Homo sapiens: one gene and its partners. The protein of the gene in region 1 purifies or fractionates together with the protein of each later gene. This does not show direct contact. Each region holds a gene or a part of one and is shown in the gene's direction. Other genes may lie near its edges. The genes, in order: UGT1A7, LMAN2L, ROR2, ITM2B, RTL9, ST14 and LMF1.

Region 1 (3,275 bases):
GACAAAAGGTAAGAAAGAAGATACAGAAGAATACTTTGGTCATGGCATTCATGATAAAATTGTTTCAAATATGAAAACATTTACGTAGCATTTAATAGCGTTGTTTCAAATATAAAAACAAATACATAAAAATCTGGATTTTTATTTCTTCTTTTTTTTTTTTTTTTTTTTTTGAGATGGAGTCTTGCTCTGTCACCTAGGCTGGAGTGCAGTGGTGCAATCTTGGCTTACTGCAACCTCCACCTCCCACGTTCAAGCAGTTCTGCCTCAGCCTCCGTGTAGCTGGGATTACAGGTGTCCACCACCACGCCCGGTTAATTTTTGTATTTTTTAGTAGAGAAAGGGTTTCACCATGTTTGTCAGGCTGGTCTTGAACTCCTGACTTCAGGTGATCCACCTGCCTCGGCCTGCCAAAGTGCTGAGATTACAGGCATGAGCCAGCGCGTCTGACCTGGATTTATAAATAAGATAATTTAGAGGTTATTATTCACTTTATAAAAGGATTCTTTAGTTTCTATATAATTTATCATATAATTTATTTAGAATTTTATTTCCCCCATTAGATTTAAAACTCCAATTTACATAAAAAGTTGCCATAATAGACATCTGATCCATAAGTTTCCTGCACAGAAAGAAATACTCCATTATAAGAAGCATAGTATCTTTAAGAGAAAAACAACTCAAATGCTTAGAAGTACAGCTTTTTGCAGCACTGGAACCTGTGAGAAATTTTGTCCATGGAGTTTATGAATGAAGGAGCTATAAGATATCACAGACAAAGTCTTAGAATAAGAGCAAAGGAAAATTTGCTCAAATGTGGCCCTGAAAACGATTCAAAGGGCAAATGATTTCTGGATTAAAGTTAGTATATTACTGTCAAGCTCACTGGTAATAGGCTTATTAGAACCTTATGGGAAGAAGTGGTGGCCAGTGGTAGATTTCATCCGACAATAGATACTGTGTGCATATGTGCGTGTGCGTTTGTGCATGTGGCTGTGCTCATGTGTGGGTGCACACGTGTGCATTCATATGCGTGTGTGTGTGTGTGCGTGTGTTTATGAGAGTGTCCATTGCTTTCTCCCATGGTTACCTCCTTTAGAAAGAAGCAGCAGTCAGGAAGACAGATGTGAAGAGCTGGAGCATGTTCAGATGAGAGGAGACGGAACACGGGGACACACCAGCTTGAGCAAGGGACAACAGGGGAGGACTGATGACTGACTTCCCACCTTTGAGGTGCTAATGTGTGTGTGGTGGCACTGGATAAAAGATCAATGTTGGCTAGGCACCATGGCACACGCCTGTAGTCCCAGCCACTCTGGAGGCTAAGGCGGGAGGATTGCTTGAGCCCAGAAGTTGGAGGCTGCTATGAGCCGTGATCATGCCACTGCACTCCAGCAACCTGGGCAACAGAGTGAGACCCTGTCTCAAAAAAAAAAAAAAAAATGAAAAGTCCACATAACCTGAGCATCATGTGCCCAGAGCGTTGGGTGGTGTGGTCCCATTCCTTCCTTCCAGCGGCTTCTTCTGGCCACCTCAATGTCAGGATGTCCTGCTCACATATCAATACCATTAAAACCTGACTTCTTTCCCTGCACTGTTGAAGCTCCTTCTTGAGGCTCACATTATGGATATAATTTTGATTCTTTCTTCAGTGGTATAGATAACTACTTGTAACCTAAGAACAACTTGGTGAAAGTCCTCTAATACATTATTTTTTAAAAAAACACAAATCAATGAGCTCAACTTATTAACTAACTTTCATCTATTCATTTTTGAGCCATCCCTGTCTGATTGTGAATCTCCATGATTCCAACACTCTGAGCTGGGGATAGTGCCTACACAAAATAAAAAGAAGTGGAAAATTTTCAAACATCAGTTTATGCTGACAACCAGGCCATAATAGGTGCTCAATTACTATTGAATGAATGAATGAAAGTTCTGGCCAGGTACGGTGGCTCATGCCTGTAGTCCCAACACTTTGGGAGGCCGAGGCAGGTGGATCACTTGAGGTTAGGAGTTCGAAACCAACCTGACCAACATGAAGAAACCTTATCTCTACCAAAAAAATATAAAAAAATTACCCAGGCATGGTGGTGTATGCCTGTAATCCCAGCTATTTGGGAGGCTGAGGCAGGAAAATCACTTGAACCTGAGAGGCGGAGGTTGCAGTGAGCTGAGATTGTGCCACTCCACTCCAGCCTGGGCGACAGAGTGAGACTCCGTCTTACTTAAAAAAAAAAAAAAGAAGGTTCCAAGAAAATTCATCTTAAGGTTTATGTAAAAGGAAGATGATATTTAACATGATTCATGGCCAAGTACTAATATTACATTATAATAATGTTTCCAAATAACATTATAGATATGTTTAAAGACAGTGTATTAGGCTGTTCTTGCATTGCTGTAAAGAAATACCCAAGACTGGGTAATTTATAAAGAAAAGAGGTTTCATTGGCTCGTGTTTCTGCAGGCTGTACAGGAAGCTTAGTGCTGACATCACTTGGCTGCCGGGGGAACCTCAGGGAGCTTTTACTCATGGCAGAAGGCAATGCGGGAGCTTGCATGTCACATGGCAAAAGCAGGAGCGAGAGAGAGTTGGGGGGGAAGGTGCCACACACTTTTTAATGACCGGCTCTCACAATAACTCATGAAAACTCACTATCAGGAAGACAGCACTAAAGCACAAGGGATCCGACCCCATGATCCAAACACCTCCCACCAGGCCCCATCTCCAGCACTGGGGATTACAATTCAACATGAGATCTGAGTGTGGACAAATATCCAAACTGTATCAGTCAACAGCGATCATAATTAGTCCTGAATAGGAGTGCCTTTTTTTTTCTTTCTTCTCCCTTTTCTTTTCTACTTCCTCCTCCTTTTCCCTCTCCTCTTCAATCTCCTCTTCATTCCTGTAGCACCAAGGGTTGAAGCACCTAACCCGTTTTGGATTGAGATGTTCTGATTGGGCAATGAACACTGTCCAGAATAAACAGAAATCCATTTTGCACTAAGTGGCTGCACAGACCCTGCCTCATGCTAAATCTAGCACCCAGATAGTTTAATGTTTCAATGACTGAATTACAAATATATCATCACCTTGGATTTGGCACTTACAAATGGCTGTTAATTTGGCCAGAGGTGGTTGTTTACAACTTCAAATAGGAGACTATTCATAATTTCTGACGTGACATTTTCCTTTCTTTATTTTACTGTATGAAAATATAATGAAATTTCTCACAAAATATCACTAAAAAGAAAAGAAGAAGAGTAGGAAGCAA
Region 2 (4,325 bases), about 140 Mb from region 1:
CTGTAGGGGCACCTTAGCAACCAGTTTGGATCAGGAAGCTGCCTGAGTGCTAAATAAGGTTGCAGTGGCCTTCTCTCTTTCCCTTGCCTCCAACAACAAACAATTACAGATATTTACTGGGCACTTGTTACAGGCCATGCACTTTGCTGGGTACTTTTAAACATGTGTTTTCTCATCTTGAGAGAGGCTTGGGAGTCATTTGAATTTTACTTTTTCCTCCATCATAGTGATATATTATTCCTTTATCAACTCTTAGCTTTATTTCATTGTTCATCATCTGTTCTCTCTCTCTAGGGCCTGTGTTTGGAAACATGGACAAATTTGTGGGGCTGGGAGTATTTGTAGACACCTACCCCAATGAGGAGAAGCAGCAAGAGGTAATGGCAAGTGTCAGAGCCTAGGTCAGCTACACTGACATCACAGTTCTTTGCCTCAGGAATGTTGTACAGGAGGGAACAAAGGAGATAGAAAGTGAGGGGTTCTTCATCTGTTGAACTTTGAAAGTTAATGTCCTTGTCAGTGTTTTTTTCTAAAGGGACTATTTAGGAGTGCACAGTCTTTTGGGAATAGCTGTCTTGAACAGGGGCTTTTTCTTTAGTGATAATCATGTTCTCTCTTGTGCCTATTAGATAGCCACTAAAATTGAGCATGTTTGGTTGATTGGTGATTTGGCTGCTAGACCAGCACCAGAGCAAGCTGAATTTACGTAACTCAGCCTCCCCTGACTTTTAATCCATCAGTGCTGTGCTCTCTTCTGCAACTTGCACACACTTTTCAGCTTCTTTTTCTTCTTCTTCTTCTCAGACCTGAAGAACAGTTCTCCTCGCCTATAGAAAAGGCTATAATTGGCCAGGTGTGGTGGCTAACACCTGTAAGCCCAGCACTTTGGGAGGCCGAGGTGGGCAGATCACCTGAGGTCAGGAGTTCGAGACCAGCTTTGCCAACATGGTGAAACCCCGTCTCTACTAAATATATAAAAATTAGATGGGTGTGGTGGTGGGTGCCTGTAATCCCACCTACTCGGGAGGCTGAGGCAAGAGAATCACACCATTGCACTCCCCCCTGGGCAGCAGAGTGAGACTCTTGTCTCAAAAAAAAAAAAAAGAAAGAAAGAAAAGGCTATAACGAGAAGGAAACTGATGAAAGCCCAGCATTTTGTTGGAACCTAGTATCTGGCTGTTGGCAGGCCTTTTTGTTACCTGACCTAAGAGTTTTTTAGTGCTTTCTTTTTTTTTTTTAATTTTTTTTTTTTGAGACAGAGTCTCACTCTGTCGCCCAGGCTGGAGTGCAGTGGCGCGATCTCGGCTCACTGCAACCTCTGCCTCCCAGGTTCAAGCTATTCTTCTGCCTCAGCCTCCCGCGTAGCTGGGACTACAGGCGCATGCCACCACACCCAGCTAACTTTTGTATTTTTAGTAGAGACGGGGTTTCACCATGTTGGTCAGGATGGTCTCGAACCCCTGACCTCGTGATCCGCCTGTCTCGGCCTCCCAAAGTGCTGGGATTACAGGCGTGAGTCACCATGCCCGGCTATTGCTTTCTTATATTGACAGTGGGTTTGTACTCTCTCTATGTCCTACGGCACTGCCATCAGATGGTGGGAAATTATGACAGGTTGTTGCTGGGTATCCTGTAGCTAAGTACCTAGCGAGGAAATCAGGATTAGAAATAGAGGCAAAGGTCACATTATTTTTTTCCTCAAAGGTTTATTATGAAAATTTTCAAACTTAAAAAACATTAGAAGGCCAGGCATGGTGGCTCACGCCTGTAATCCCAGCACTTTGGGAGGCCGAGGTGGGCAGATTACTTGAGGTTAGCAGTTTGAGACCAGCCTGGCCAACATTATGAAACCCTGTCTCCACTAAAAATACAAAAATTAGTATTTTTATTAGTATTAGTGTTAACCTGTAGTCCCAGCTACTTGGGAGGCTGAGGTGGGAGAGTCACTTGAACCTGGGAGGTGGAGGTTGCAGTGAGCTGAGACCACGCCATTGCACTGCAGCCTGTAATCCCAGCTACTCAGGTTGCTGAGTCAGGAGAATGGCTTGAACCCAGGAGGCGGAGGTTGCAGTGAGCTGAGATCACACCACTGCACTCCAGCCTGGGCAACAGAGCAAGACTGTCACCAAAATAAACAAAAAAAATTAGAAGAATAGAGAATGATCATTGTATCTGTGATGCTTAGATTCAACAGCTGTTAACATTTCCCACAGAACTCACTTTTTATTTTTTATTTTTTTTATTTTTTGAGATGGAGTCTCGCTCGTCTCCAGGCTGGAGTGCAGTGGTGCAATCTCGGCTCACTGCAACCTACATACACCTCCTGGGTTCAAGCCATTCTCCTGCCTCAGCCTCCTGAGTAGCTGGGATTATAGGCACACGCCACCACGCCCAGCTAATTTTTGTATTTTTAGAGACAAGGTTTCACCATGTTGGCCAGGATGGTCTCCATCTCCTGACCTCAGGTGATTCCTCCACCCTGGCCTCCCAAAGTGGTGGGGTTACAGGTATGAGCCACTGTGCCCAGCGAGCTCACTTTAAAGGTGGTGGAATGTGAGACCTGAGTTAGGAGAATAACCTTTTGTTGTGGATCAGTTACAGCTGCTTCTCTGTGTTCCTTCTGGGCTGTTCTTCATTCCACATACATTAACCACTTTCTAGGTGCCAGGCCCTGGGAATTAGTGAGCAAGATAACATGGTCCTTGTACTCAGTAGCACTGAGAATGCTGATGGGGGAACTCTGGGGCACTATGGGAGGACACAGCAGGAGCTTCTAACCTGAAGTGGGGCAGTAGTGTTGGTGGTAGTGGGGAAGGCTTCTTCCAGGAAGTGCCTTTTAGGTTGAGGTCTGCAGAGTAAGGAACCCGTGTCCCATGCAGAGGGAAAAAAGCCGAGGTCCTAAGGTTAAGAGAGGGGATGATGAGGCTGGGTGCAGTGGCTCATGCCTGTAATCCCAGCACTTTGGGAGGCCAAGGCGGGTGGATCACGAGGTCAGGAGACCGAGACTATCCTGGCCAACATGGCGAAACCCCGTCTCTACTAAAAATACAAAAATTAGTCAGGTGTGGTGGCATGCTTCTGTAGTCCCAGCTACTCAGGAGGCTGAGGCAGGAGAATCGCTTGAACCTGGAAGGTGGAGGTTGCAGTGTGAGCTGAGATCACGCCACTGCACTCCAGCCTGGGCGACAGAGTGAAACTCCATCTCAAAAAAAAGAGAGAGAGAGGGGATAATGAGTGTGTGGAAATAAAGTAGAATCAGAGACAGATGAGGCTAGAATGAAAAGCAGGGCCAGTAGTCTTGTTATGTTGCACAGTTCCTAGGGCTGCTGTTCACCTTGCATTCTACAATATTAACACTGTAGCCTCGGCATGTTAACTAGCCGCTGAGACTGACTGGCATCTGCTTGGGTGGTTGGTGGCTGAACTGTTTAGATGAGAGCCAGAGCAGACTGAATGTATGTGACTCATGCTCACCATATACCACTTGGGGCCAAGTTCTGAAGGATTGTGTTCCTGTTGAGGAGTCTGGACTTGATTCTGAAGGGGTAGGTACATTAAAGGATTTTATTGAAGAGAGGATCATGACTGGATTTGTAGTCATGCTGAGGAAATAGTGGTAGTTAGAAATGGATCTGAATAAGAGTTATCAGCTTTAGGGCCTGACAAGAGTTTTAAACTTGTCTCTCTGTTTCTTCCAGAAACAAATTGTTCAAACTCTGTTAGCTTCCATTTCACCATGAGATAGTAGTAATTCTGGTTTGAGAAAGTAGAAATTCTGACTTGGGTTTATTTTGTAAGGATTTTGTAGATGTTAATTAAAAAAAATTTATTTTAGATGGTAAAAATTGAGACATCTTTTCTGGCTAGCTATTGTGGTTCTTACTTCCAAGTGCACATTGTAATTCCCTGGAGAACTTTTAAAAATATTGACATCCAGTCCCAACCCCAGAGCTTCTGATTCAGTTCGTCTGAAGTGCAGTCTAGGCAGCCTTCCTCTTTTAAAGCTTTCCAGGAGATTCACATGTATAGCCGAGGTTGAGAACCCTTGGACTAACATGGGTTCCTTTTATCCTTATAAAACTAAATTTAAGGCCGGGCGCGGTGGCTCACACCCGTAATCCCAGCACTTTGGGAGGCTGAGGCGGGCAGATCACAAGGTCAGGAGTTCGAGACCAGCCTGGCCAACATAGTGAAACCCTGTCTCTACTAAAAATACAAAATTAGCCAGGTGTGGTGGCGGGCGCCTGTAGTCCCAGCTACTTGGGAGGCTGAGGCAGGAGAATCACTTGAACCTGGGAGACGGAGGTTGCAGTGAGCCAAGATCA
Region 3 (4,325 bases), on another chromosome or scaffold:
TTGTGGCTTGATAGCTCATTTTTTTTTAGCACTAAATAATACCAGTGTCTGGATGTACCACAGTTTGTTTATCCATTCACCTACAGAAAGACATCTTATTGCTTCCAAGTTTTGACAATTATGAATAAAGCTGCCATAAACATTTACATACAGGTTTTTGTGTGACTTATGTGTTCTACTTATTTAAATTTACTTATATAAATACCAAGTAACAAAATTGCTGGATCGCAAGATGCTGGATCATAAAAGAAGTCATTGGCGGGACCTGGCACCTCCCAGAGCTCTAACAGACTTTGTGTGTTTCTTACCAGGGATGATTACCACGAGGATGGGTTCTGCCAGCCTTACCGGGGAATTGCCTGTGCACGCTTCATTGGCAACCGGACCATTTATGTGGACTCGCTTCAGATGCAGGGGGAGATTGAAAACCGAATCACAGGTAGGAGCTGCAGACCTTTCTCCCAGGATGATAAGCATGCACACAGCCATCTGTCGCACAGATGGTGGCCACTGTGTTTCATCAGTTAATGGCATGGTCAGTGGGTGCCTCTTCCATTTCATTTGTGGTAGAAACCAGAGATCTTTTTTAGAAGTAGTGGCAATTGCTAACATGATTTGCCCTAAAAATGTTCCTGGCCTGTATGTTTAAATTAGCAAGTGTGGGTTGCTTGGAATATACTTCTGCACTTTTAACTCAGCCAAACCGTGTGGGTCCAAAGCACTGTCCTCACTGCAACGCCAGGGCCTCCTGCCCCGGGCCTGCCACACTGGCGCAGATAGCCTCAGCGCCCCCACACTCACTCTGCTTGACTTCTCATTCTGTACTTCCTGACTCTTCTATCCTCTCTGAGCCACGTTTGGTCCAAAGGCACCCAGGCCTGATTGCAGCTGTTTTGGGGAAAGAGTCGCGGGTCATCAGTGGTAGGGATGCTGCAGTGAACACACACTTTGTCAGTCCTGGGTTTCCAGAGAACAAAGCCACGTCTTTGGGTACCTGGTTCAGGGTCTGAGAAAGTGGCAAGTCAATTAGGAACTGCAGCTGCTCATCCTTGGTCTCATTAGGACTTAACTTCTCTGATTGGCTGTCCCAGTTCCCAGCATACAACTCGAACACATTGATGGGGTCCGGGGTCCTTCTTAGGGGAAAGGCCTTGGAAAGGAAGAAAATTAATTAGACAATAGTCCTACAGAGCCCTCCTCCTGCTGTCTCTACTCTCTCCACAAACACATACACATTTTCTCTCCAGATCCCATAAGGAGCAAGACACATCCTGTGCAGATGGCCGGTGCCCCAGCACCTCAGTTTAGTTGGATCCTCTCCATGGGAGCGGGAGGCTCTGCTGCAGATTAGAGTCAGTGGGTGATCTCTGATGCCTGCGCTCCTGGGAGAGTGTGGTGGGGCAAAGGGGATACAGGGCACTGACCTGTTAAGGGGTGACAATGAGGATCCAAGGCAGAAAGTCACCTCATGTCACTGACAAGCCCTTCTAAGTTCAGGTCACCCTCGGACTAGAGAGTCGAACATCACATTCACGGTCACAGAAGAGACTGCCTGGCCCATGTGCTGGTACAGAGACCTCTGAGGACAGGGCCAGGGGGTCCTGTGCAAACTGAAAGAGCCATCATGAGACAGAGAGGAACCTGGAGATGCCATCCTGTTCCAGCGGGAGATGGTTTTGAAAATATGGCTACCTCTCACTGCAAAAGCTTTCTTTGCCATTAAAGTAGGACTTCTCAAAGGTTTTTACCGAAACACACAGTGGAAAATAGAGAATATACTTTACGCCATGACTTAGTGTACACATACATGTATTTCACACAACTGACATAGGTTACAGGGAATAACTTTCACCCTTCGTAAAAGCGGTGCACTTGGATTTTTCTTTTCAGTTTTATTTCATTAAATAAAAAAGTGGCCGGGCACGGTGGCTCACGCCTGTAATCCTAGCACTTTCGGAGGCTGAGGCGGGCAAATCACGAGGTCAGGAGTTCAAGACCAGCCTGACCAACATGGTGAAACCCCATCTCTACTAAAAACACAAAAAATTAGCTGGGCATGGTGGCGGGTGCCTGTAATCCCAGCTACTTGGGAGGCTGAGGCAGAAGAATCACTTAAACCCGAGAGGTGGAAGTTGCAGATCGCGCCACTGCACTCCAGCCCCAGAGACAGAGCAAGACTCTGTCTCAAAAAAAAAAAAAAAAAAAAAAAAAAAAAAAAAAAAAGTTAGAGCCCTTAGTAGGAACCGTGCATTCTGACATCCTCTAGTCTGTTCTTACCATCTTTTAAAATGCTAGCTGCAGACTCTCAGAATTAATTAGACACCCTACTAATTGGCAAGCACTGATCCAGGGCACAAGATTGTCCCTCAGTTATCTCTTCAGGAGTTGTTTAAGGAATCAGCTTGCATCCAAGCAGCCTGGTTTTATAGCATCTTTTAGAGAAGAGTTTAGAATGAAGATTTTCTAGGTGGGTGGCTTTTTGAAAACAGTAAATTTGAAGTTGCTCTCAACAGACTTGTGGTTTTGAAATAAGCATAGTAATGACTGCGTTGTGTGCAGTGTTGTGTTGGAAAGTGTTGTGTGACATTCAGGGTGTGGACAGATAACAGGATGTGAGTTGTTGGATCTCTTTGTGCCTAGAATTGCACTTTCAGAAATAAGCAGTACATTCTCAGGGTGAGGAGAAGGAGAAAGAGAAATCCTATAAAGATCAGCAGAGACATCCTATCAGTGGATTAGCCCAAGAGAAGTGACAGCTTTGGCATTCTTAGACAATCTTTCCCTGCCTGGAGGTCAAGGCCTACCTACATTTTTGACAGCCATCCATATAATCCCAAATCTGTAATGATGGGATTGAACAGGGTTGAAGCCTCAGTTCTTCCTCCAAATCCAAGACATCCTGTACTGTAACTGCTTGCCCTCTCTGTTCCTCCATTTAAATATCGGCCACAGGAACCCAGAGGAGGGGAGGTGATGTGATGAGCACAGTAGTGCCTGCACACAATCAGGACAGCGTGGCTGCTCCCGCCCACTGACGCCGCCTTTTACCAGACCCCTGGGCCCATTCACGCTGAGGGCCACTTTATAGGCTCTGTGTGCACTCTCATTCCCCAGTGTGGGGTCTCAAATCACTCTTCAGGTACAGAAACAGGCCCGGAAAGGCATGAGTGATACCACAAAGTGATCACGCACAAGGCTGTTCCCACACAGCTGCCCATCCCGTTCCTGGGTGGGTTCCCAGGGAATGACTGACAGCGGCACTGCCACCTGCTGGCCAAACCTGGCACAGCACTTACACGCTTTCCTTGCCTGGAGGTCAAGGCCAGCATTCTTGACAGCCCTCTGTATAATCACCAAATAATCGCCAAATCTGTAATGATGGGATTGAACTGCATTCGTGGGTGGAGTTAGGGCTCCTCAGGGACTAAATGCCAGCTTCTGGGTTTTCTGCCACGCTGGAGGACACAGCCTCTGCTGGGTGTGCAGGCAAAGGGGCCTGTCTGCCTCCACTGTCCCCAAGCTCAATTGTTGTAAGCCAGCCTTTCACAGGTGAAAATGGGGTAGTGAGCCCAGGGCAGGCTGATGCATTCCTTAGAGCCCTGCCTTGGCCAGCTTCTTCACCCTTACCAGTGTCCAGCCATGCACCCCAGGTGCAGCAGATCTCTCCCCAACACCCCCACTTTGTTCCCGAACTCACCCCATCTTCTAACCACCAAACTGCATCCTCTGACATCTTGCCCTTAAAAAACAAACCGCCCTACCAAAGGGGGCTCTGGATCTTCGGGTTTTTCTGCTCCCCCTTATCACAGAACCTTCCAGAGTTGTAACGCGGCTCTCCTCCCACTTTGCTGCTCTCACCCTCTTGGCTTTCCGCATTTTACCAACTGTCTCCTCCAGCTGCAGTTCACAGAGCTGAGCTGACTCCCTCTTCCGGGACAGCCTTCTCCCCAGACAGATCTGGGACATTGGGAAGCCTGGGGCTCGGTACTGCACTTCTTGGCCTGCGCTCTCCACACATGGCGGGTCCTTAGGATCTGCTTTTGCATCTGAAGTCTGAACCCTCTTGTCCTGGAAGAAGCACCTAGCGGAGTGAGCTAGGGGGCCGAGTTTTCCTTCTTTCTTGTTCTGCTTCTGATGTTTCTAAGTGAGGCCCTGGGACCAGGGACTTTTCTGTGACTGCTGCAAATCAGAGCAGGTGATGGGCAGGCTGGCCTGCTGGTGGGGAGCCTCTCCAGGGTGGTGTGCGGGGCTCGGGGTTGGGGAGTCTGGGGCGGGGCGGGGCATCAGGGGGCTGAGTGGGCAGTCTGGGATGCCAGGCTGGGGGT
Region 4 (4,325 bases), on another chromosome or scaffold:
GTTAAAGAATTTCACCCTTTGCTAGTTTGCAAAGATTTTTTTTTAATGGAAGTTGAATTTTGTCAAATACATTTTCTGTATATTTTGAGATAGTCATGGGGTTTTTCTTCTTAAATCTCACGTGGCTTTTTCTTTAAGTAAAGCTTACTCTTTGAAGTGTTAAAATTTAATCACTCTAAAAACACTTTTAATAAATCTCTTAGATTAAAAACTTTTAAATCTTGAGCATACTTTAATCCCTTCTCCATGACTCGGATTGTATTATGGAACATCATTTATCTATCATACGTGATGTTAATTCTTGACTATAAATCGCTCAAAGTAGGAGCCATGTCTTAATCACATTTGATTTCCCACAGGATCTAGCACAGTATATTGCAAATAGCAAGCCTTACTTAATAAATGCTGAACTAGGCTACTGCTCTTGCTAAATAGCCACAGTTTGTTTTACGTTATGAATTATGTTGCATCTCTCCCTTCCCTTATTATCACGCTGGCTGCTGGTATAACTTTTATGAATCATAAAAAATTAAATAACCAGGCTTTTTAAAAAAATAGATCTAAGTTGGCCGGGTACGGTGGCTCAAGCCTGTAATCCGAGCACTTTGGGAGGCCGAGGCGGGTGAATCACGAGGTCAGGAGATTGAGACCATCCTGGCTACACGGTGAAACCCTGTCTCTACTAAAAATACAAAAAATTAGCCGGGTGTGGTGGCGGGCGCCTGTAGTCTCAGCTACTCGGGAGACAGAGGCAGAAGAATGGTGTGAACCCAGGAGGTGGAGCTTTCAGTGAGCTGAGATCGCGCCACTGCACTCCAGCCTGGGCAACAGAGCGAGACTCCATCTCAAAAAAAAAAAAAAGATCTAAGTTTTATTCACTCATCAAATATATGAGTGCCAGCTAATGCCAAGCCTAAGCTTGGCTTGGAGCTACCAGTAATGCAAAATGAATATGAATGGATACTTAAAAGATCTTATAGCCTAGTAGAGAGAGATAAGATCTTTATGTGAATTATTCTCATGAAAGAAAAGTGATAATTAGGAATTTAGAGAACAAAGATTAGATAGACTTTGAAGATTAAACAGCTCTTCTATGAAGTACATGATGGTGGTGCATAGGTTTGGGGTCTATAATTTGGCTGACCAAAGACTCTTGTTTATTTCCTGATTCTTAAGCCACGTTTCACGTTGTTGAGGTGCTGAATAAATTGACCTGTGGATAAGTGAAGTATTTGTAAGTGAAATTCCTCAAGAAATTGAATTTTAAAAAAATATTCAATAGTGCTGAGAAGTGATTTTTGAATGAACATGAGAAGTCAAACTCTAGCATGGTTTACAAAGGTCTTTTGTGACCTGCACCAGCTTCTTGTCCATCATTTCTCATACTCATCTCCACCATATTGGGCACTCCAGCCAAAGCACATGTGGCTCTTGGAAATGTCATGCATTTTAGCTCCATAAATTTTGAAAAATCATTGCCATATATAAAATTTCCTTTAACTCTATCTTCTGCTGAGGTAATGAGTATTTGTCCTTTAACATTCCACTAAAGTATTTTCTCCCTTGGGAAGTCTTCCTGAAACTCATCCCCTCTTATGTGCTCTCTGTGCATTTTCCTATTAGAGTTTGTATCATATTTATTTTCTTTTTGTATATTTATCTGTTTTCCGGACTGATCTAACAGGTCTCTTTCTTGGCAGAGCATACATTTCCAGTGCCTAGCACAGCTCTTGGCACATAGTAGACATTTATAATTTATTCTCAAAATGATTGTTGAACAGTTAAAAATGATATATTACAATGCCTTGAAACTTGTCATCAATTTGCCAGTTGGGGCTGCGTATTCTTTTACAGATGTCTGCCTGTGCTGTTTGGCTATTCATTTATGTACTATTGGAAGAGAAAGCCTGCCAAATGGGGTGGGTGTGTGCGCACATTTGGCTGTCCCAGCAGCTGATACCAAATGTTGGAAATAACTATTTCCATCTGTCATTTTCATCCCCCCCACTCTCCTTCCACTCTAAAATTAATTATGTTAGGAATGATTTCTTACCTCCTTAGATATTTATGTCAGACAAGGGCTCAAGCAAAAGATGTATACTTCGTCATTAAAGTTTCATAATACCTTATGACTCCATGGAATTCTTGTAGCTTTCTTTTCACAGCTGGGATATCTTACATGGCTTGCTAAATTCTTCAGACTTATTCTCATTACATACTTTTCTTCCTTGCAATACGCTCATTGTCTTTCACACATAGTATATTGACAAGTGCTACAGAAACCATGACATTCTCATAGCAATGCACTGATTCTTAGAATACACATTGTTTGTTGTTCAGTGTTAAATTCTATGTTTGAAATCTCAACCTAGGAACACACTGTATCGTATCACATTGTTCTTGGTTGCTTCAACATCTGGGATTAGACCTTTTTCAGTTGTATCATGTTAAAGTTCCTCATTTTAGAATTAAAAACATATAATCTTAGGTTTCATTCGTAACTGAATTCTTGCTTCAACCAAATCTATGTTCTAATACCGGGGTCCCCAACCGCCAGGCCACAGACCAGTACCGGAACTGGTCTTGGCTAGGAACTTGGCTGCACAGTGAGCATTGCTGCCTGAGCTCCGCCTCCTCTCAGATCAGCGGGGGCATTAGATTCTCTTAGGAGCGCAAACCCTATTGTGAACTGTGCATGTTAGGGATCTAGGTTGTGCGCTCCTTATGAGAATCTAATGCCTGGTGATCTTCTGAGGTGGAACGGTTTCACCCCGAAACCATATCCCAACACCCCTCAGTCTGTCTGTGGAAAAATTGTCTTCCACAAAACTGGTCCCTGGTGCCAAAAAAGGTTGTGTAGTGCTGTTCCAATGACCGATCCTGTTTTTGTGCATCATTCATAGTTTTTCTTTCTAATTTTATATCCTATTATATAGGTTTAGGTGAAGTCTGCTTTCTGCCTTAAGCCTACTCCATAGTGGGTTTTCCAAGTAAAGGACAGAGTCATGTACTTCAAAGAGGCTGTTCATGTATACTATGAATTTTTGCAGTCTTTACTATTTATTGAGTGACTACTTATTTAAGTATCTTTGTTTTCTTAGCTCTTTGCACATGAACTTGGGTACAAATCAGAAATTTGCTGTAATTCTAAAGTGACAGATTAGAGGGATCAGGTTAGAAGGGCACAGGGAGGGAATATCTAGGAATTATGAATGTCATGACCCCAAATAATGTTCTAATGCTAAATTGTTTTCTTAAGTGGATAGAAATGAAAATTTTATAAAATTCTGTGCTAGTTTTGTTTCTTGAATTTATCAGTAAATTTTTATCATTGAATATGTTCTCATTTTTTTCTACTGCTTCTATCTTTAAAAGAAAGTGAAGAATTTTATCAGACCATGGTTTAGGGTAGAGCAGTGGCATAATAGGATTATGTATTTCTATGTATATAATTTTGTCCTATTTTTTGAAATTCTAATTGTTTAAATAATTTTAGTATCATTGTTTGTTCTTTTCCTTATTTTCCTGTAATTTTTTCTTGTGGATGGTTTAGAATAGTTTTATACCTGGTATGAAATATAAACCACCTGTAGCAGGCCTAACACATAATTTCATAAATGATCAGATAGAGAGATGCCCTGGATTTATAATGTACAAGGCTCATCATCATATTATGTGACTAAGTTGTAGCATAACCTCTTCTAAATTATTAAATTATAGAATATATCACCAAAAGTTGTGCATGGAAAGTAAAAATTATGGAGTGTATCATTGCTTGAGGCAGGGTTAGCAGGTAGGGTGTTGAGATTAGAAGTAGACAACTCTCCTAGAGACCAATGTCCCAGTCCAAGAACCATTAAGATGAGCCCTGGAGCTACCACTTAATCATTCCTGGGTTGATTTTGATGAGAGACACAACTCCTTTGGTCTTTGTGTCTTCATTTATTAAAATGATAATCATTAAGGTTTTTCTAGTCCTGAGCCTTCTGTTATTCTGTCTGGAGATAAGATATTTAACTGTCTTTTTCATATTTTAGGACCCAGATGATGTGGTACCAGTTGGCCAAAGAAGAGCCTGGTGTTGGTGCATGTGCTTTGGACTAGCATTTATGCTTGCAGGTGTTATTCTAGGAGGAGCATACTTGTACAAATATTTTGCACTTCAAGTAAGTGGAAAAATTATTTTGTGTCTCTGATTTTTTTTTTTTTTTGCCTCTCCCGATGTGCATTACAAAATTGTTTACAACTTGCGCTAAGCTTGTACTTTTTATCTGTGACCTTCAGCCAGAGTGGTAGTTCTATTTTAAAGCTGTGTTTAAACATCT
Region 5 (4,325 bases), on another chromosome or scaffold:
CTCAGGCGGAAGACCTAGGAATCAATCTTGATTTTTCCCTCTTTCATATCCTACATTTATTTGATCAGCAAATCTTATTGGTTCTACCTTCAGAATATATCTAGAATCTGACCACTTTTTCATTGCTACTATCCTGGTTTATGTCACAATGATCTGCTTCCTGGATTATATTGCACTAGCCTCTCAACTGTTCTCCTTGCTTCTGTTCTTGCCACCATCACTCAAGCCTATTATTCTCTCACTGTTTTTTGGAACCAGGATAATTTTATTATGTGAATGTCAGATCATGTCACTCCTCTGCTCAAAACTCCTCCAATGGCTTCCCATCTGACACTCAGTAACAACAAAACCCCTTATAATGGCCCATAATGCTGTATGCAACCCAGATATTGACATACTCCTGTCCTTCAGGTGATGGATCAAATATCCCACTTGGTAAAATCTTCTCTGATTACCATATTTAGTATTGCAAGCGCCTTCTCGCCATTCTCTATCTGCCTTCCATGTTTTATTTCTTTATACTTTGAATACTAGCAGATGTTATATGTTTATCTATTTATTTGTTTATCATCTATCTCCTTCTGCTAGAACAGGAGCTGGAAAACTTTTTCTGTAAAGGTCCAGATAATAAATATTTTAGGCTTTGTGAGCCACGTAATCTTTAACACAACTACCTACCTCTATCATTGTTATACAAAAGCTGCCATAGATGAGCATGGCTGTGTTCCAATAAAACTGTATTTACCAAAACAGGGAGCGGGCTAGATTTAGCTAATGGGCCATAGTGTACTGACCCCTGCTAGAATGTAAATTCCAGGAGGGCAAGGACTTTTGTTTACTGCTGTATCTCCAACATCTAGAATAGTACCTGGCATATAGTAGGCACATGATTTATTTTACTGAATGAATGCATCAGTGGGAGATTGGAAAGCTGTGGAATAAAAAATATATATATATAACAGAGCCATTGATGGTGCAGAATCCTGAACAAAATCTAGCTTTGGATGGGTTTGCAGCATATCAACTCTCCTTCCTTCTTTTTCCCCTCATCCCTACACTAAAACTTAAGCTTGTTATATAAAGTAAAAGTTGCTTTCATTGCCTGTGCAATTCTCCCAATGTGTGAAATTTCATCTGACTTCCTTTAATGTTGTCATTTGTCTATTTAACCCTCCTGACTCAGACTCCCTCTAATAACAATAATAACTCAAATACTCTGTACTAAAACCAGAACGCTGAAATCAGTATTTTTAATTAATTTGAAACAACTGCTAGCAATAGCTTCTATTGACAACTCTACGCTTTTCAACACTTAATCATATTCTGAAGTACTCCCAGAAGCTGGGCGACTGTTACTCTTATGATATGAGATGATATTTTCCTTCCATGCATTCAATGTGAATGGTTTGTTCTGAAAAACTTCAGCTTTCATGTACTCCTAATGGTAAGAATCACATGGTAGGAAATATGATAAATGAAGTATTTACCAGTTCTTACTGACTGTTCTTTCATACTTCCTTGGATCTCTTACAGGCACTAAAGATATCCTGTAGTTATATGACTTCCTATTGAAAATGCACTTTCACTCATTCATTATTTTATATAGTCTTCCACACATTGCTAACATTTACCAAACATTCACTACGTATGTGGTATTGTGCTGGGGGATTTATATATATTAATTCATTTAATTCTTATAAAACACCTAAGTGATATATACTATCATAATTTTATAGATGAAGGAACTGAAGTACTAAAAGCTGAAGTAATTTGCTCAAGGCCCCACAACCAGCAGAAAAGGAAGCTAGCATTTCAACTCAGGTCTGCCCAACTCCAGAGCCAAGATTTATCTATTGTTTTTTGTCACCTCAACAAATATTTACCATATGCCATGCAGCACACTAGGCAGTACCTACAAAGATGAATAGGGCATGATCTCCTTGGCCTTCCAGAGGTAACACTAGTTGGGGCTATATGGGTGGGAATGGAGTGTCAGATGCAGAAGCTAAGGAATTTTCTCTTTACAAACAGGTGGGTGAGAAAGTAGACACAGCACTGTGAATTTGTGGAGTTTTGAAAAATGGACAGAGGGCTACAGACTGAGAGGGAATAGGGCCACCAACTCTAGAATTAAGGTCAACTGATAGGGTAGAAACATGCCATTCTCAGGGGCTTAAGCTGACAAAAGAAATTGCCCACTGTAGAAATGAGATTGGCTGCCCACAGAAAAGTATTTACTGATAGATAAGGGACCTCCCTATGTGTCATTAAGGAGTAATGCTCTAAAATGTAATCAGTGGAAAACACAACTGTAGCCTTGGAAATGCTATGGCTGGGAAAGTCCATATAACTAAGACGGGGTTCATGATATTGTGACATGTACAAACAAGTTATTTGACCATTATAGAGAGAAAAATAAAAATAATTAGAAAGAGAAGTTGCTTTTATTACTCTGTGCCCTGGCCTACTGACACATTTATTGACTTTCTGATAGGGTGATGCATGGATGCATCAGACTGAATAAACTACATGACTCCATCTCTTCAGATCATCCCACACCATATACTATCTCTTCACTCACCAGTAATAACAGTCACCATATAACAAGTGCCTACAGAGTCAAACACTTTACATAAATTATCTTATTTAATCCTCAAGGCAACTCTATGATATCATAGAATTCTATTATTAGTTCCATTTTCAAATGACGGAACTGAGGCTCAGAGAGGTTATGTGACTTAAGCCCATAAAACGGAATGAGTGGTATATTAGTTTTCTGTGACTACCATAACAAATTGCCACAAACTTGGTGGCTTAAAACAGCAGATATTTATACTTTCACAGTTCTGGAGGCCAGAAGTTCAAAATCAAGGTGTTGGCAGGGCCATGCTCCCTACAAAGGCTCTAGGGGAGATTCTGTTCCTTGCCTCTTCCTAGCGGTTCCAGGTGTTGCTTGGCTTGTGGTAGCATCATTCCAATCCCTGCCTCTGTCTTCAGATGGGCTTCTCCCTTGTCTCTGTGCCCTGTCACTTATAAGGACACTTATCATTGGATTTACAGCCCACCCTAATCCAGGATGATCTCATGTAGACATCCTTATCTTACATACATCAGCAAAGAGTCATATTCTAAATAAGTTCACATTTTGCAGTTCCAGTTGGATGTAACTTTTGGGGGCGGTGACACAATTCAACCCACTATGTATAGCCTAGCTGGGACCCTAGCCTATCTGACTCCAAAACTCTGGCTCTTTCCACTAACTAAAGCAGGCTGCTCCCACCAAACAAACAGCCTTTTGTCTTTATTTGGTTTCCTAAGTAGATTTCCTACTGGGATTTATCAAGATGAATTAATAAATTGACATTTTGGCTTCCAAATTATTGCCTTATAAGTTTAGGTTGTGTGAAATTTGTCCCCTAGAGCCTGATCAATCCCTGGCTAAAATGGAAAAAATTGAGTTTTGGAACCTGTGAAGCTGATGAATGGATCCTGAATAGGACCAAGGTCCATTTAGAGTATAAGCATCCCACAGCCTGCCAGCCATACTAATTTCTTTACTATATATGTGACCATAATATAATGGGATAGCATAATATTCTAAGTCTACCGAAGAATGTCTAATCATCTAAGAGCTTACAGGGGGAATTTTTGTGTACCTTAATATTATATCCAGAAATATTCCCTGTAGTGCCAACTATATTTGTTCCTGAGCCTCAGCTCCCTGCATCAGGTCACAAGGAAGATGTCTCTAGGAGTTCATTATCACATTAAGACAAGGATTCTGTAGGAAAATGGGAATCTAGAAACAGTAGGGACTTCCTGTACCTCTACATCAGTGTCTTTGCAGGGGAATTGCCCTAGCTGACCAGTTGACACTGGCCTGCTCACACCTTAATTATGAATAGAATATTCCCAGGGATGTCTTTCTCAGATTGTGGTCAGTTTGTGGGCCGCCTATTGTGGTGGTCCACTGAGTGACACCTGGGGAGCTAGTTAAAAATGTCAGTTTCCTGGTCCTTTATAGCAGACTTACTGAGTTAGTATATCTGAAGATAGGGTCAGGAGCCTGCATTTTAAAACAAGATTCTGGAATAATTCTGATACATATTCAAGTTTGAGAACCATTGCCTTCTGGTGAAATCAGGCTTCCATGACGTTGAAATACAGAATAAACTCCAAATGTTCATTTACAATTCCAGCCAATAATCACTTACCTTATTGCATTCTTGTAGCGTGATCTATATGCTTTAGTTCATGTGACAATATCATTTCATATGGCTTAATTTAAATGAAAGCAAAGGCAGTTATGGCAAGATTTCTTAATC
Region 6 (4,325 bases), on another chromosome or scaffold:
CCACCAGAAGAATGACATCAGGAAACTGTCAAAAGGGCCAACACCTGTGGGTGTGGGATGGGCTGTTGCTTTTGTTGTGAGCCGTATTGAGTGGGCGTGAGGTAGTTAAACTGAGAGTGCCACAGTGCCAGGCCATGGTGCATCCCCAGGATTCAGGGCGGGCAGACGGCATGTGCTATCGGCAGAAGCCTTCGCCGGTCCGTCACTGGGTGCAGCAGACACCCCACCTGCCCCTCCGTATTCTGGCCCCTCATCATGGATACCCTTGGCAGGGAGGAACCCGGGGAAGTTGCCATCCTGTCTTTTGGGCGTTTGGTTTGCTTGCTTTTCCCTCTGTTGGGGCTGCGCGTGGGTGTGGATTCCCACAGTGGGCCTCTCACTGTGCCTTGAGGTCCTGGACTGGGGCTCCCAAGGTTAAACACAGAGCAGTTTTTTCCATGACAGCACCACCTTTTTACTTTTGGCTGGTTCACCATTGGCAGGGCAAGGCCGCTGGGTAGGGTGTGCAGTTGAGTGCTGGCCACAGGCTCCTGGGCCAGGTGATGGGGGGATTGAATCTGGTAGGGGCTGTGTCCGAGGGAGCAGGGCCTGCTCCTAGAAGTCTGCACAGGGGTACCAGTTGCCAGTCATGGGCCTGGGCTGGGGCCACTCTCCGGGGCACCCACCTACGTCAAAGGTGATTCACTGAAGGGGAGACCTGGATGACCGGGTTCGACAGCCCTTCATTGCGTTTTAATTTAAATGAACAATTCGTAAGCAATGATCGCCTGGTGCTGTCCAGACCCTGAGATGCGTGGTTGGGAAGGCCGACCTCATGTTCCTCCCAGAGCATGCCCAGGGTTCATGTCCCGGGGTCTGCGCTCTGGGCAGTGGTCCCCATGCCTCTGGGGGAAGCCCCCTTCTTCTCACCCAAGCCCCTGCTTTCTTCTCCAAGCTGGACCTCACAAAATGTGAACATCTTCCCCAGCGGGGTGCAGGGGAAGAGCGGGTGAGAGGGTCTGAGTGGTGGCGCCTCTCTCCCTGCAGAAAGTGAATGGCTTGGAGGAAGGCGTGGAGTTCCTGCCAGTCAACAACGTCAAGAAGGTGGAAAAGCATGGCCCGGGGCGCTGGGTGGTGCTGGCAGCCGTGCTGATCGGCCTCCTCTTGGTCTTGCTGGGGATCGGCTTCCTGGTGTGGCATTTGCAGTGTGAGTAAAGCTGGGGCTGGCTCCGGGGAGGACGACAAGGGGTGGCTGTCCCTCTTCCCTCAGCGGACAGACCCAGGGCCACCTACTGAGTACACGAGGATCTCTTGGCCTCTCTGGAACCCTGATGGGGAGTGATGGGAAGCAGTCAGGGCTGACCCATGGCCCCCTCCTGGCATTCATTCCCCATTGTGGACGGCGAGGGACAGGCGGGGGTGGTACCACCTCCCCTGACTGAGCGCCTTCTGGTCTCACACAGACCGGGACGTGCGTGTCCAGAAGGTCTTCAATGGCTACATGAGGATCACAAATGAGAATTTTGTGGATGCCTACGAGAACTCCAACTCCACTGAGTTTGTAAGCCTGGCCAGCAAGGTGAAGGACGCGGTGAGTGCAGCCTGCCCAGAGTCCTGCTGGGCTGTGTGCGCTGGTGTCCCACCTGCTGGGCAGGAGGGACATGCCTCGCCTGTGCTCCCAGGGCCCTGGGATGGGGGTGATCTGCAAAGGGGACCCGGGCCCTGGAGGGGAGGGAGCAGCCCGGGCTTGGGGCAGGGTCATCGCCGCATGGGGCTCACCTTGAGTCTCTGCCCTTCCTCAGCTGAAGCTGCTGTACAGCGGAGTCCCATTCCTGGGCCCCTACCACAAGGAGTCGGCTGTGACGGCCTTCAGGTGGGTGTGGAGAGAAGGCTCAGTGGGATGCACCCCAGACTGGCTGGGAGTAGGATCGGGGTACAGTGTGTGGGGCAGGAAGCGGGAGATGGTGCTGGAGGTCCTGGCCTGGAGAGCCAAGGAGGGTCCTCGCTGTGTCCTCCTGTGCGTTACTTGGCAGCCTGACTCTTCTGCCCCCATGGCAAAGGTGCCTGTAGCTGTTGCTGTGATGAGCTGCCCAAAGGCCTGTGACGTGCTTGGCATGATGCCAGGAACGGCTGTGATTCTTTGTTGTTTTTCCAAATTTGGGTATGGGGGAGTTGGGGTACTCAGGCAGCCTTCAATGAGCCCCCACATTTTCTGTGCTTGAGCAGTTTTTCACGCATACTTTTGTAAAAAAATAGACTTTATTCTCAAAGTGCTTTTTATTTTGCTAGTTCGTTTGAACCCTGGGGAATGCTGTGTGGCAGGTGGCATTCCCAGTTCCTTTCTCAGGTCAGAAAACAGGCTCAGGAAGGTGACACTCGGTGTGTCCTCGCTTGTGGCCAAACTCCAATGGGTTTCCCCTCCTCATTCCTACCCCTGAGCAGCCCCCAGAATCGGTCTGGTTGGGGATGAGACTGTGAGAGCAGAGGGCAAAGGGCAAGGCCTCTTGCTTTGGGGTGGAAAGAGGGATGACACAAGAGGAGCTGGGGAAGGGCCTCTGCAGATGGCAGGCCCAGGTGTGCCCCGAGCCGCCCATGTGTCCTGGAGTCGCTCTGGGCGCACGTGGGGGAAATGGGGCCCAGAGCTCCGCCTCAGGCTCCCGCTCTCTCCCCAGCGAGGGCAGCGTCATCGCCTACTACTGGTCTGAGTTCAGCATCCCGCAGCACCTGGTGGAGGAGGCCGAGCGCGTCATGGCCGAGGAGCGCGTAGTCATGCTGCCCCCGCGGGCGCGCTCCCTGAAGTCCTTTGTGGTCACCTCAGTGGTGGCTTTCCGTGAGTCCGAGGGCCAGGGGTGGGCGTGGGACTGGCCAGCCTTCCATGGAGTGGGGCTGGGCCCTGGACCATTGCAGGGGACCGGCACTCCCAGGGCCCAGTGCCCCAGAGAGAAGACTACGTGCTGGCCGGGCACCTCCCTTTAGATAATAAGGAAGCAGGAATAAGGAAATGGATTGTATCAGGAAATGCTTTATTCTCCTTCTTATTCTTCAGCCACGGACTCCAAAACAGTACAGAGGACCCAGGACAGTAAGTATCGTGCCCGCCTCCTCTTCTGGGTGGGGAAGAGGCGGGATGTGGCCAGATGCCCTTGAGCCAGTGGGGTCCCCAGAAGCATGTCCCTCTGAATGAAGTATATTATGACGATCTTTCCAGGCCCTTCCTCTTCCAGGCCCTTCTGAGAAGCCCCCTTCCTGATTTCCCGAGGCCCAGGGCAGCCTGGGGCGTCTCGAAGGGGCGAGGCCTGAGGTCCACACCCACGGGGTCTCAGGGTCCTCCCCCAGCTCTGCCCAGCCCTGCCCCCACACGTGCCCTCCTTCTTGTCTCCTGCGCAGACAGCTGCAGCTTTGGCCTGCACGCCCGCGGTGTGGAGCTGATGCGCTTCACCACGCCCGGCTTCCCTGACAGCCCCTACCCCGCTCATGCCCGCTGCCAGTGGGCCCTGCGGGGGGACGCCGACTCAGTGCTGAGCCTCACCTTCCGCAGCTTTGACCTTGCGTCCTGCGACGAGCGCGGCAGCGACCTGGTGACGGTGTACAACACCCTGAGCCCCATGGAGCCCCACGCCCTGGTGCAGTGAGTACCCCGGGGGGCGGGTAGGGCTGTGGGAGCTTGGCGGCTGCCCTGTAGGGGGCCAGCTTCTTCAACGATTGGGATACAGTTTATGACTCTTGGCCGCAGGCCACTGCTAAACATCCAGGCAGCAGGAGGCACGTGTGGTGTGATCCTCAGCTGCAGCTCCAGGGGAGTCTGGGAGGTGATTTTTCTCAGCCTTGGCAAAGCAGAGGAAGGCTCTATAGTCCCCAGATACCAAATCCAGCCTGTGCGGCCTGTGCCCTGAACCGCCGGAGAGAAGGCACTGCCCACGGTTGTAAAATGTAGGCTTTATTATTCAGGGATATGAAGGCCAACAGATCAGGAGATGACTGCTCTTGAAAAGACAATTTTGTTGGCGGGCACGGTAGCTCATGCCTGTAATCTCAGCGCTTTGGGAGGCTGAGGCGGGAGGATCTCTTGAGGCCAGGAGTTTGAGACTAGCCTGGGCAACAAGACTCTGCCTCTATAAAAAATAAAAAGCTTAGCTGGGTGTGGTGGCGCATGCCTACTCAGGAGGCTGATGCAGGAGGATCTCCAGCCCAGGAGGTCGAGGCTGCAGTGAGCGGTGATTGCACCACTGCACTCCAGCCTGGGCAACAGAGAAAGAACCTGCCTCAGGCCACATGAGGAAACACCAGGTTGGTCAAGGGGTAACAGGAATGAGGGGAAAATGTAAGCAAGAGCCTTTTATGGGCCG
Region 7 (4,325 bases), on another chromosome or scaffold:
TGCATGTGGACATCCATCTGTTCCAACATGATTGTTACAGAGACTCTTCTTTGTTTTTTTATTTATTTTGTAGAGACTGAGTCTCACTATGTTGCCCAGGCTGCTCTGGAATTCCTGGGCTCAAGCGATCCTCCTGCCTCAGCCTCCCAAAGTGCTGGGATGACAGGTGTGAGCCACCACGCCCGGCCCAAGGCTGCTCTTTGTCTGTGTAGTTGCCTTTGAACCTTTGTCAGAATTTGTTCACTCTGTGTGTCGGGTCGGGGGCAGGGGGGCTGTGTCTGGGCCGTCTCTTCCATTCCATTGAGTTCTGCGGCTCTTCCTTAATCAATACTGCGCTGTCTTGATGTGGTCTTGATTAGCTTTTTAGTAAGTCTTGAAATTGGGTAACATGAGTCCTCCACCTCTGTTCTTTTCCAGATGATTTTGGCTTTTTAATCCCTTTGCTCTCCCATGTATATTCTAGAATCAGCTTGTCAGCCTCGGCGGAAGCACTGACTGGGTGTTTGGTTCAGATTGTGCCGAATTTATGGATCAAATTGACACCTTAATGATTTTGATTTTTCCAATCCATGAACATGGTCTATCTCTTCATATAGTTAGATCTTGTTTCATTTTTTTAATCAGTGTTTTGTAGTTTTCCATGTGCAGATTCCGTTTATATGTTTTTAGATTTATAAATGCATGGGGAAAAGTACATGTACTAGCTTCCTACATGTCTACACAGACACTCACTCCAAACCAGCATGCACAGTTACACAGACATGGACCCCAAGCCAGATTCCTACACGCAGTAGGAAGCCGCATGTACTTGTGGGGTTGCTCTTGTGATATTGTTATCATTATGCAATATCTTCTTTCATCCCTGTGTCATTCCTTGTTTGTAAATTGATTTTTTTCCTTTTGAGATGGAGTCTCTGTTGCCCAGGCTGGAGTGCAATGGTGCCATCTCGGCTCACTGCAGCCTCCCGGGTTCAAGTGATTCTCCTGCCTCAGCCTCCCAAGTAGGTGGGACTACCGGGGTGCACCACCACATCCGACTAATTTTTGTATTTTTTAAGTAGAGACAGGGTTTTGCCATATTGGCCAGGCTGGTCCCAAACTCCTGACCTCAGGTGATCCACCCGCCTCAGCCTCCCAAAGTGCTGGAATTACAGGCGTGAGCCACCGTGCCCGACCCTTAAATCTACTTTTTTTTTTTTTTTTTGAGATGGAGTTTTGCTCTTGTCGTCCAGGCTGGAGTGCAGTGGCGCAATCTTGGCTCACTGCACCCTCCACCTCCCAGGTTCAAGCCATTCTCCTGCCTCAGCCTCCTGAGTAGCTTGGATTACAGGTGCCTGCCACAACGCCCAGCTAATTTTTGTATTTTTAGTAGAGACAGGGTTTTTCCATGTTGCCCAGGCTGGTCTCAAACTCCTGATCTCAGGTGATCCGCCTGCCTTGGCCTCCCAAAGTGCTGGGATTACAGGCGTGAGCCACCCTGCCCAGCCCTTAAATCTACTTTTTATGATGTTAATAGAGCCACTTCCACTTTCTTTTGTTTGTATTTTTTATTTTTATTTTTAATTTTTTTCAGCCATGATGAATTAGATCCAGCTTTCTTTTGATTCACATTTGAATGGTGTATCTTTTTTACTTTCAACTGCTTTTTCATTCTTCACGTTTACACATGGGAATGTGCTTCTCTCACCTGTCAGCATCTCTGGGTAAGCATTCAGTGTTCTACAAATACTGACGTCCAGAGGATGTGAGAGAGCTGTTGTGGGTGGGCGCCGTGGGACATGAACTCGGAGACCTGTGGATGTGAGAGAGCCGTCGTGGGGTGGGCGCCGTGGGACGTGAACTCGGAGACCTGTGGATGTGAGAGAGCCGTCGTGGGGTGGGCGCCGTGAGACATGAACTCGGAGACCTGTGGATGTGACAGTGCCATTGTGGGGTGGGCGCCGTGAGACATGAACTCGGAGACCTGTGGATGTGAGAGAGCCGTCGTGCGGTGGGCGCCGTGAGACGTGAACTCAGAGACCTGTGGATGTGAGAGAGCCGTCGTGGGGTGGGCGCCGTGAGACGTGAACTCGGAGACCTGTGGATGTGAGAGAGCCGTCGTGGGGTGGGCGCCGTGAGACGTGAACTCGGAGACCTGTGGTCTGCGTAGAGGGCAAGTGTGGCTCACCTATAGGCAGTAAGTGTCAAGCCCTGCAGCGTGTGCTGGGAGTGATGCCGTTGACCAGAGCCAGGGTCCTCAGGGTGTGTTTCATAATGGTGAATGCTGAGTGCAGTCCGGTTGGTCAGCTGGCTGTCTGTGTGTAGCCAGGCACGCAATTTATATACACATGTCTACTTTACTTCTATGTGTGTGCGTGTATACACACTGCATCTGCTGCAGACACGGAATTTATATACAAGCATCTAGTTTGCTTCTATGCGTATGCGTGGATGCACACACTGCGTCTGCTGCAGGCACCCATTTTATGTAACGTGTCTGGTTCACTTAGATGTGTGTGCGTGTATGCACACACTGCGTCTGCTGCGGGCACGCATTTTATGTAACGTGTCTAGTTTACTTAGATGTGTGTGTGTGTGTATGCACACACCGCGTCTGCTGCAGGCACGCATTTTATGTAACGTGTCTGGTTCACTTACATGTGTGTGCGTGTATGCACACACCGCGTCTGCTGCGGGCACGCATTTTATGTAACGGGTCGGGTTCACTTAGATGTGTGTGTGTGTATGCACACACCGCGTCTGCTGCAGGCACGCCTTTTATGTAACTTGTCTAGTTTACTTAGATGTGTGTGTGTGTATGCACACACCACGTCTGCTGCAGGCACGCCTTTTATGTAACTTGTCTAGTTTACTTAGATGTGTGTGTGTGTATGCACACACTGCGTCTGCTGCAGGCACGCATTTTATGTAACTTGTCTAGTTTACTTAGATGTGTGTGTGTGTGTGCACACACCGCGTCTGCTGCGGGCACGCATTTTATGTAACGTGTCTAGTTTACTTAGATGTGTGTGTGTGTATGCACACACCGCATCTGCTGCAGGCACGCATTTTATGTAACGTGTCTGGTTCACTTAGATATGTGTGTGTGTGGATGCACACACCGCGTCTGCTGCGGGCACGCATTTTATGTAACGTGTCTAGTTCACTTAGATGTGTATGCGTGTATGCACACACCGCGTCTGCTGCAGGTTGGCTTTTCCAGTGTTTCCCCCAAAATCTTGAGAAAGTACTCAGACTCCTGAGTCTAGGGTTTGGCCCCAAACCGTCAGCCAGACTCTGCCTCCCCTTCCCGCCTGCCTCGCCCCGCATTCTGAGCTGCGCCCATGGTGTCCACATGTGGTTTGTTCCTAGTCATGCTTGTTTTGTCTTCTTTTTCTTCCAGTCGTGGCATTCCTGGTGGCTTTCCATCAGAACAAGCAGCTCATCGGTGACAGGGGGCTGCTTCCCTGCAGAGTGTTCCTGAAGAACTTCCAGCAGTACTTCCAGGACAGGACGAGCTGGGAAGTCTTCAGCTACATGCCCACCATCCTCTGGCTGATGGACTGGTCAGACATGAACTCCAACCTGGACTTGCTGGCTCTTCTCGGACTGGGCATCTCGTCTTTCGTACTGATCACGGGCTGCGCCAACATGCTTCTCATGGCTGCCCTGTGGGGCCTCTACATGTCCCTGGTTAATGTGGGCCATGTCTGGTGAGTAGCAGGAATGGGGCGGTCGGAGCTTAGGGCTTGCTGTCACTCAGCACAGGCACTGCAGGTGTCCTGGCACTTGGAAAGACTGGACGAGCGTTTATCTTAAATTCCTTCAGGAGGGTATTGTCATTTTACTTAGGCCATGGCAGAGCGGCCAGTGCACCAGCCACAGCAGCCACCCATCTTCAGGATTAAAACCCCACCTCTTTGCAGTAGCTCTTCCTTACTTAAAGGACTGCGTTGCCAGCTTACTGGAGCCAGAGGGATGGGGAAAGGGAGGCAGAAGCAGTGGGTCTGTGTCTGTGTGGACGTGTAGGAGGCTGGTTTGGGGTGGGTGTCTGTGTGGACGTGTAGGAGGCTGGTTTGGGGTGTCTGTGTGGACATGTAGGAGGCTGGTTTGGGGTGGGTGTCTGTGTGGACGTGTAGGAAGCTGGTTTGGGGTGGGTGTCTGTGTGGACGTGTAGGAGGCTGGTTTGGGGTGTCTGTGTGGACGTGTAGGAGGCTGGTTTGGGGTGGGTGTCTGTGTGGACATGTAGGAGGCTGGTTTGGGGTGGGTGTCTGTGTGGACATGTAGGAGGCTGGTTTGGGGTGGGTGTCTGTGTGGACATGTAGGAGGCTGGTTTGGGGTGGGTG

Evidence for each region.
Region 2: the proteins of UGT1A7 (region 1) and LMAN2L purify together in Homo sapiens (affinity purification with mass spectrometry; one large-scale study listed by BioGRID and IntAct). This does not show direct contact.
Region 3: the proteins of UGT1A7 (region 1) and ROR2 purify together in Homo sapiens (affinity purification with mass spectrometry; one large-scale study listed by BioGRID and IntAct). This does not show direct contact.
Region 4: the proteins of UGT1A7 (region 1) and ITM2B purify together in Homo sapiens (affinity purification with mass spectrometry; one large-scale study listed by BioGRID and IntAct). This does not show direct contact.
Region 5: the proteins of UGT1A7 (region 1) and RTL9 purify together in Homo sapiens (affinity purification with mass spectrometry; one large-scale study listed by BioGRID and IntAct). This does not show direct contact.
Region 6: the proteins of UGT1A7 (region 1) and ST14 purify together in Homo sapiens (affinity purification with mass spectrometry; one large-scale study listed by BioGRID and IntAct). This does not show direct contact.
Region 7: the proteins of UGT1A7 (region 1) and LMF1 purify together in Homo sapiens (affinity purification with mass spectrometry; one large-scale study listed by BioGRID and IntAct). This does not show direct contact.

The regions. Positions count from the first base shown.
Region 1 is NC_000002.12:233,768,432-233,771,706, forward strand, and holds part of UGT1A7 (UDP-glucuronosyltransferase 1A7 precursor), read left to right. Parts: coding exon 1-8; intron 9-3,275. Other genes in the region: UGT1A8 (UDP-glucuronosyltransferase 1A8 precursor), read left to right, coding at 1-8; UGT1A10 (UDP-glucuronosyltransferase 1A10 precursor), read left to right, coding at 1-8; UGT1A9 (UDP-glucuronosyltransferase 1A9 precursor), read left to right, coding at 1-8; UGT1A6 (UDP-glucuronosyltransferase 1A6 isoform 1 precursor), read left to right, coding at 1-8; UGT1A5 (UDP-glucuronosyltransferase 1A5 precursor), read left to right, coding at 1-8; UGT1A4 (UDP-glucuronosyltransferase 1A4 precursor), read left to right, coding at 1-8; UGT1A3 (UDP-glucuronosyltransferase 1A3 precursor), read left to right, coding at 1-8; UGT1A1 (UDP-glucuronosyltransferase 1A1 precursor), read left to right, coding at 1-8.
Region 2 is NC_000002.12:96,729,571-96,733,895, reverse strand, and holds part of LMAN2L (VIP36-like protein isoform 2 precursor), read left to right. Parts: intron 1-294; coding exon 295-377; intron 378-4,325. UniProt on the Homo sapiens protein: May be involved in the regulation of export from the endoplasmic reticulum of a subset of glycoproteins. May function as a regulator of ERGIC-53.
Region 3 is NC_000009.12:91,733,505-91,737,829, reverse strand, and holds part of ROR2 (tyrosine-protein kinase transmembrane receptor ROR2 isoform 1 precursor), read left to right. Parts: intron 1-311; coding exon 312-439; intron 440-4,325. UniProt on the Homo sapiens protein: Tyrosine-protein kinase receptor which may be involved in the early formation of the chondrocytes. It seems to be required for cartilage and growth plate development. Phosphorylates YWHAB, leading to induction of osteogenesis and bone formation.
Region 4 is NC_000013.11:48,249,771-48,254,095, forward strand, and holds part of ITM2B (integral membrane protein 2B), read left to right. Parts: intron 1-4,037; coding exon 4,038-4,166; intron 4,167-4,325. UniProt on the Homo sapiens protein: Plays a regulatory role in the processing of the amyloid-beta A4 precursor protein (APP) and acts as an inhibitor of the amyloid-beta peptide aggregation and fibrils deposition. Plays a role in the induction of neurite outgrowth.
Region 5 is NC_000023.11:110,361,198-110,365,522, forward strand, and holds part of RTL9 (retrotransposon Gag-like protein 9), read left to right. Parts: intron 1-4,325.
Region 6 is NC_000011.10:130,187,088-130,191,412, forward strand, and holds part of ST14 (suppressor of tumorigenicity 14 protein), read left to right. Parts: intron 1-1,026; coding exon 1,027-1,186; intron 1,187-1,442; coding exon 1,443-1,570; intron 1,571-1,781; coding exon 1,782-1,852; intron 1,853-2,651; coding exon 2,652-2,809; intron 2,810-3,025; coding exon 3,026-3,061; intron 3,062-3,366; coding exon 3,367-3,607; intron 3,608-4,325. UniProt on the Homo sapiens protein: Exhibits trypsin-like activity as defined by cleavage of synthetic substrates with Arg or Lys as the P1 site. Involved in the terminal differentiation of keratinocytes through prostasin (PRSS8) activation and filaggrin (FLG) processing.
Region 7 is NC_000016.10:953,724-958,048, reverse strand, and holds part of LMF1 (lipase maturation factor 1), read left to right. Parts: intron 1-3,382; coding exon 3,383-3,692; intron 3,693-4,325. UniProt on the Homo sapiens protein: Involved in the maturation of specific proteins in the endoplasmic reticulum. Required for maturation and transport of active lipoprotein lipase (LPL) through the secretory pathway. Each LMF1 molecule chaperones 50 or more molecules of LPL.